Regions from separate parts of the Homo sapiens genome. Here region 2 is reported to be linked to region 1. The links are microRNA targets in miRTarBase. Many come from high-throughput screens and were not tested one by one. Region 1 holds a microRNA gene; the other region holds the end of a gene's coding sequence.
What was found. The annotated mature microRNA hsa-miR-3925-5p reads AAGAGAACUGAAAGUGGAGCCU and lies in region 1 at 2,121-2,142, shown strand. An mRNA with a match to its seed (bases 2 to 7 or 8) in the 3' UTR can be bound and repressed. Matches are read on the target gene's strand: a 7mer-m8 pairs with bases 2 to 8, a 7mer-A1 pairs with bases 2 to 7 and ends in A, and an 8mer does both.

Region 2: the mRNA of ZIK1 is a reported target of hsa-miR-3925-5p. Seed matches in the 3' UTR shown: 7mer-m8 at 747-753 and 7mer-A1 at 2,835-2,841.

Annotation. Positions count from the first base shown.
Region 1 is chr6:36,621,227-36,624,621 of GRCh38, reverse strand. It overlaps MIR3925 (microRNA 3925), which reads left to right and starts at 2,110; the gene lies at 2,110-2,186.
Region 2 is chr19:57,590,806-57,594,215 of GRCh38, forward strand. ZIK1 (zinc finger protein interacting with K protein 1) reads left to right here. Exons shown (of 4, transcript NM_001010879.4): 4 at 1-3,085. The coding sequence ends at 470. Among named protein-coding and RNA genes, the nearest start is that of ZNF530, 7.4 kb to the right of the region's middle.

The DNA.
Region 1 (3,395 bases):
GACCTTGCTGAGTGGAAGCCATGGGCCAGGCTCTCCCCAGTCCTCATTGCCTAGAATGTCTTCTCCACACCCACCAGACGAGTACCACTCACACCCTAGACCTTCTTCTAAGTGCATCACGTACATAGCTCTTTTCATCCTCACACACTGCCGGGAAGGTAAGCTTGGTTACTTCTGCCATTTTACAGGTGGGGAAACTGAGGCTAAGAGAGGTTAACTTCTGCCGGCAACACTTGGAAATGGTTGGTATGGTTGGAAGCCGGCACCGCTGGGCCCAGGGTCTGGGGCTAAGTGGAATTCAGTGTGGGTCTTTCCTTTCCCATTAGAACCCCTCAAGTGTCAGACCCTCTGCCCCTCCTCGCAGTACTTCCGCCTTGCCTCATGCCTCCCAGGCACTATCTCTGTGAACTTTGAGCTCTGCCCCTATTGCCCAAGAAAGGCTCGCTGATGAGGAGGAAATTGCCCAGGTTTATAGTTTCCTCCCAGCCTCTCTGGCGACACCTGAGCCTGCTGCTTCTCCCCTTCCGCCTCCCGCCACAGTCATACACACAGCCACTCATGCATACTCACATCACACCACACTCCAACCAGCACTCCCCACGCTGCCAGTCACACATAGTTACACACATACAATCACATATATGTTCCCATATAGACACATTCACACTCATACTTTCACACATGCACACGCATGTGCACACACAGTCACTCATTTCTGTGTTGGAGATTGGGTGAGGACATTCAATGGGTGAGGACCAACAGGTGTGAAGATTGCTTTCTAGAAAATGACGCCTGTCTCTCTTTGCCATTCTTCCCAATCCAATGGAGCTACTAGGCTTTTCCCTCATTTCATGTTTAATAAACAAGCCGCTCTTGCGGAACGATGGTTGGATCCCTCATCAACCACCACACACTCCCGACCCCACCCTCCTTCCTGCCCCTGCCAGCAAACCTGACAGGTCCAAGGCCTGGAATTGAGAACCTGTTTTCTTCCCCATCCTGCCCCCTTGTGACGGGAGCCTAGAACTGCTGGCTCTGCGCCCAGAGGTTAACCACATTTCTCAGGAAGGTTCCAGTAGCCAGGCGGGTTGTTAGGAGAGGTCTGTATCCAACTCCCCTCCTCCTGCAGAGGGGCAAACTAACTAAATGAAGATCCACTCTTCCTTCACCCCGATCCTCAGGGCCACCAGAAGAGCTGACTGCTGTTTCACAGGCACACTCCACTGGCACAGGAGATGGGTGGGTGTGCCAACTGGACCAGCATATGGCAGGACCCTTATGATGATCAAGCCTACAGTCATCATACAATCACAGGATTGTTGCCCTATATCCATATTTTCTTGACACCCTAATAGTGCATTTGGCTAAACCTTGGTGAAATAGGCATGACAGCATGTGACTGTGCCGCCTCTGACACTGACCACCCAGGCCTTTCTCTTCACTCCTTCCCTGAGGCCTTGGAGGGTCTGCCTGTGGCCTTTAGTCTGGTGTTTGAGCTCACAGAACTGGGTGTGGTTGACCCTCCCTTTGTCCTCACCCCCTCCACACACACACAGGGATGCTCTTGCAGGCTCCTGGTTTGATGAGGCAGCCCAGGATGTGTCCCCACCTTTCCTCTTTGAGCCCAGGGCCAGTGTATTTCAGGCCGAGTGATTTCACCCAGGGTCTTGTTTCCATTCCATTTTATTTTTAGTCCTCAGGTGCAGTGGGATGAGTCCCTCCTATTCCCCAGGTGATGGCTGGCTGTCATCATTGGTCCTGACTAGTCACCTCTTGCTTCATGTATTCCCCCCTCACTCCATTGTCATTTCCATGCCCCCACCCCACAGGCAGCCATTCTACTATATCCTTTATTTGTATGTGTTCTTGTGCAGTGCTTTGTAGGCATGGATTTTGGTACTGCAAAGTGCTGCATTGTACACATAGTATTGCATAGTGTTGCCTTATTACCATTTCTGTAACAAACTGAATGTGTTACTTTATGTTGGAGCGTGGTGGAGCCTTAAGAATTTATTGAGAATCTCTGCATTAATGATTATGAAAGTGACTGCAAGTTTTCGCTGAGTCTTATTTCCTGAACATAAACTCAGGATCCTGGACCATGGTCATGTGGGAATAGCAAGAGAACTGAAAGTGGAGCCTGTCACATCTCCAGACTCCAGTTTTAGTTCTCTTGCTATTTCCACCACATCTTTCATCACTTCCTCCACTAAAGTCTTGAACTCCTCAAAGCCATCCACGTGGGCTGGAATCAACTTCTTGATGATGGATGAAGCCACTTCCTTGTGGCTGGAACCAACTTCTGTGTTTCCTAAAATGGGGACAGCAATAGTACCTACTCTCTAAAATTTGTTGTGGGCTAGGTGCGGTGGCTCACGCCTGTAATCCCAGCACTTTGGGAGGCCGAGGCAGGCAGATCATGAAATCAGGAGATCGAGACCATCCTAGCTAACATGGTGAGACCCTGTCTCTACTAAAAATACAAAAAATTAGCCGGGTGTGGTGGCGGGCGCCTGTAATCCCAGCTACTCGGGAGGCGGAGGCAGGAGAATCACTTGAACCTGGGAGGTGGAGGCTGCAGTGAGCCAAAATCACGCCACTGCACTCCAGCCTGGGCGACAGAGGGAGACTCCGTCTCAAACAAAAAAGAAAATATTTTTTGTGAAGATCAAATGGGTTAATACAAGTGAAGAGTGCCTGGCACTACTAGTGCTCAGTAAACATTGTTTATGGATGCTTTCTTTTTTTTTTTTATTAGGCCTTATAATAGCCCTATGAGGTAATATAATTAGTTCCATTTCACTGATGAAGAGACCAAGGTCCAGGGAACAAAACAACTTGCCCAGGTTTGCATCATGATACTGCCAGAAGCTAAATCTAGATCTTCAGACCCCAAGACGGCCACAGGACCTCGATCCCCATGTGTTCCCTAGAGGTGTTGTGCAGAACCTTCCTGATGCTGATCTGGATGACGAGCGGTCACCCACAGGCTGCTGGAGATGATTCCTGGTCGGGTGGCCCTCAGTCCTCCTTGATCTTTCTCCCACACTGTGATCTTCACACCCACTGGCCATTCCTGAGAAAGAACCTGCCTTCTCCAGGGCTTTTGTGGGTGCCCATGTTCACCAAGCAGCCTCTAAAGTGATGTGAATCCTAGCGCCAGGCCTGGTAGTAGCACATATGCATGGTAGATGCGTGCTGGAAAAGCAGGAGCCCTAGGAGCCTGCCTTGGGTTCTAGTCCTAGCCATCCATTGCCTCACCCTAGGGTCTAACTTTCTATCTCTAACCTTCAGTTTCCACATCTGCACAATGGGGATAGGAACTTTTCTGTGAGGATCAAGTAGGTTTTAGGAGACTATTCCAATCTTGATCAAATACTAACAGTCGCCTGAAC
Region 2 (3,410 bases), not on the chromosome of region 1:
TTAGCCAAAAAGCCACCCTTGTTAAACACCAAAGAGTTCACACTGGAGAAAGGCCTTATAAGTGTGGTGAATGTGGGAATTCCTTTAGTCAAAGTGCCATTCTTAATCAACACCGAAGAATTCACACTGGAGCAAAGCCTTATGAGTGTGGCCAGTGTGGGAAATCCTTTAGTCAAAAAGCTACCCTCATTAAACACCAGAGAGTTCACACTGGAGAAAGGCCTTATAAGTGTGGTGACTGTGGGAAATCCTTTAGTCAAAGCTCCATCCTTATTCAACACCGGAGAATTCATACTGGAGCAAGGCCTTATGAGTGTGGCCAGTGTGGAAAGTCCTTTAGCCAAAAGTCTGGTCTCATTCAACACCAAGTGGTTCACACTGGAGAAAGGCCTTATGAGTGCAACAAATGTGGGAATTCCTTTAGCCAATGCTCCAGCCTCATACATCACCAAAAATGTCATAACACATAGAGGCCTCATGAATGCAGCAAATGTGGAAGCGCCTTCAACTCAAGATCTATCATCATTTAGCTCCTGAAAGTCCACACTTAAGTAGAGCCTTAGACCTACAGGGAAAGTGCTGTCTCTGTAGTATTGTAGCAGTAGAGAGCCTTTGTGAGGGAGCCATCTGCCTGAAGTTGAACCTCATTCTTCCTTGTTTCTCTGGTAGAAACCATCTACCCTCTACCACCTTGCACAGTGGGCACTGGTCACTCCTATGTGCTAAGACAAGGCAGACATCTGTGTGTTCTCTTAAGTCTTTGGAGGAAATCTTGAGCAGTCTAAGCCTTTAGAGAAAATTCATTCTTTTTTCTGACTGATCACAGCATACGTGTGACCCAGTTTGGGTCAGGAGGGCCCAGCCTTGGTTCTGCTGGACACTTATGTGCAAGGATTCCCTTCATGTAAATTCTTGGTCTCACATGACACTTGGTCATTCTTCCAGCCTCCATGTCACCACGTGGTGAATGGCTGCCTCACATTGCTCCAGTTTGTGCACTAATAAAAGCCTTATATTTGAATCTACCTGTAGTCTTGGGGTTCTGTTTACTGTGTGGGGTGGCTGGGAGACAGACTTCAACTCTATATGAAGGAATGGATGGCTTTTGTGGGCCTCTGCAGGAAAGTAAGATGACAGAGTAATTCTAATTCTGGTTTTGGTCATACTTGCTTTGCTACCTAAAATCTCCTAGGAAAAAATGCAAGGTTTTGGTTATTCTAATTTGTGGCCTGGATCCCTATTCTTTCTGTGAGACTAGAGGTCATCCTGAGGAGAGGCCAGCTGTTATGACAAGCATGTGTGCTTCAGGGAATAGGACAATTTTATTCCATTGTTTCCAGAGGATGTCATATGATGCCCAGTGCTGCTGAGAAGCTTTTCATGGGGTTCTATAAGGAGGCATGCCCTGATATCAAACATTCCATAGGCCGATGTCACGCAGAAGACAACGCGAGTCACATGTGAACTGTAATTGGTACAGAAATACCTGGGTATTTCTGTACTGTGTGTACTGTAGCAAACTAGTTGGAATGTGCCTCTTATAAAAGTACATTTACAAATCTTCCCGTGACTGTGGCTTTGAGCAGTCATAGGACCTAGAAATCTGTGTATGTCCAATAGCTGAGGTTATTTTCAGCAAAAATAATTAAAGGGTTTTATTTTTTAATTCTTGTTGGTTTTCTAGGTTGTTCACCTCAAGTGCATTGCTGTAGAGGCAGAAAAAGGAGGATAAAGATAACAGAAGTCCTATAGGCCAGGGATGTATTGATAGCTCTTGTGATTTCCACCAGTGTTGCTGTTGTCTCAAATTGCCACAGCCTTCATTGCTTGCCAACATTTCCTGCATGGAGGGACTCATGGTTGCCCTTCCCCAGGCCTGAAGAGAGAGTGCAGTCAACATGAGATTGCTAGGCATTCTGGTTTCTGAAAGTTGGGTGATCAGATACTTTATTGTGAAACATGTTTTACAAACTTTCTTGATGTGTAAGTGACATGCCATAGTTTACATCCATTTATGGTGTATAATTTGAAGAGTTTGTCATACAAGCCTGTGAAACCATAATCATGATCATGAACATATTCATGATTCACCTCTTGCTGTTTTACAATCTCTGCGTGTACTTTCCAGGCCTTCAGGAGTCCTGTCATTTACTTTCCCTACAGGAGAATAGTTTGTGTTTTCTAGGATTTTATGTGAATTGAAACGTAAAATACTTACTCCATTTTTCCTGATGATGCACAATTTTTTTTTTTTTTTTGAGATGGAGTCTCAGTCTGTCACCAGGCTGGAGTGCAGTGGCATGATCTTGGCTCACTCCAACCTCCTCCTGGGTTCCAGCGATTCTCCTGCCTCAGCCTCCTGAGAAGCTAGGACTACAGGCATGCACTACCACGCCCAACTAATTTTTGTATTTTTAGTAGAGATGTGGTTTTACCATGTTTGCCAGGATGGTCTTGATCTCTTGACCTCGTGATCCGCCCGCCTCAGCCTCCCGAAGTGCTGGGATTACAGGCGTAAGCCACCACACCAGCTGATGCACAATTACTTTTAAGATTTATCAATATTGCTTATGTGAATAGTTCATTTGTATTGCTGAGAAATAGTCTGTGGATATGTCACAATTTGGATAAACAGTTGGATGCTTTCCAGTTTTGGGCTGTTGCAAATAATGCTACTATGAACATAGGCATATAACTCTTAATATGCAGAAATGCTTTATTTCTCCTGTGTCAGTAGTACAGTGTACGTGAATGCGTCACTTTTAAAGACAAGGCCAGACTATAACCTAACTGTACCATTTGCATTCTCATCAACAGTATGTGAACCTTCTTATTTCTCTACATTCTTGCCATACTTGGTATGGTTAGTCTTTTTAATTTTAGTTGTTTTAATAGCTGTATAATAGCATCTGTCTGTGATTTTATTGCATTTTTCTGGTATTTTATGGTATTGAACATTTGAACATCTTGTATCTAGTTGCCACCTGTATATCCTCTTTGGAAGAATGTTTATTAATGTCTTTTGCTTATTTTTAAATGGATGTTGGTGATACTTTTTCATTAATAAATAGACGTATAACAAAGACTTATGTTGAAACTTTACTCATTCTTCAGTAATGTGATGCACTTATTTGCTAAATGATAAAATTGTTTTCAAATACTGGGAAAATAATTTCTCAGTTTTTTGGTCTATTCACAGTGTAACAACTACAGACACTATATACCTGAAACACTACCTTCATTGACAAATTCTCCATCACTTTCTTAGGTCTAACCATTCAATGAAACAAATAAGCCCTGGTTTTTAATATTTGCCAATTTCCCTGGTAAAATACTCCCACCATGGCCAATTACAAGGTGTCAAAATAATGTCACTGAACATGAATTGAGAAGAAGTGGGTAGCGTCACA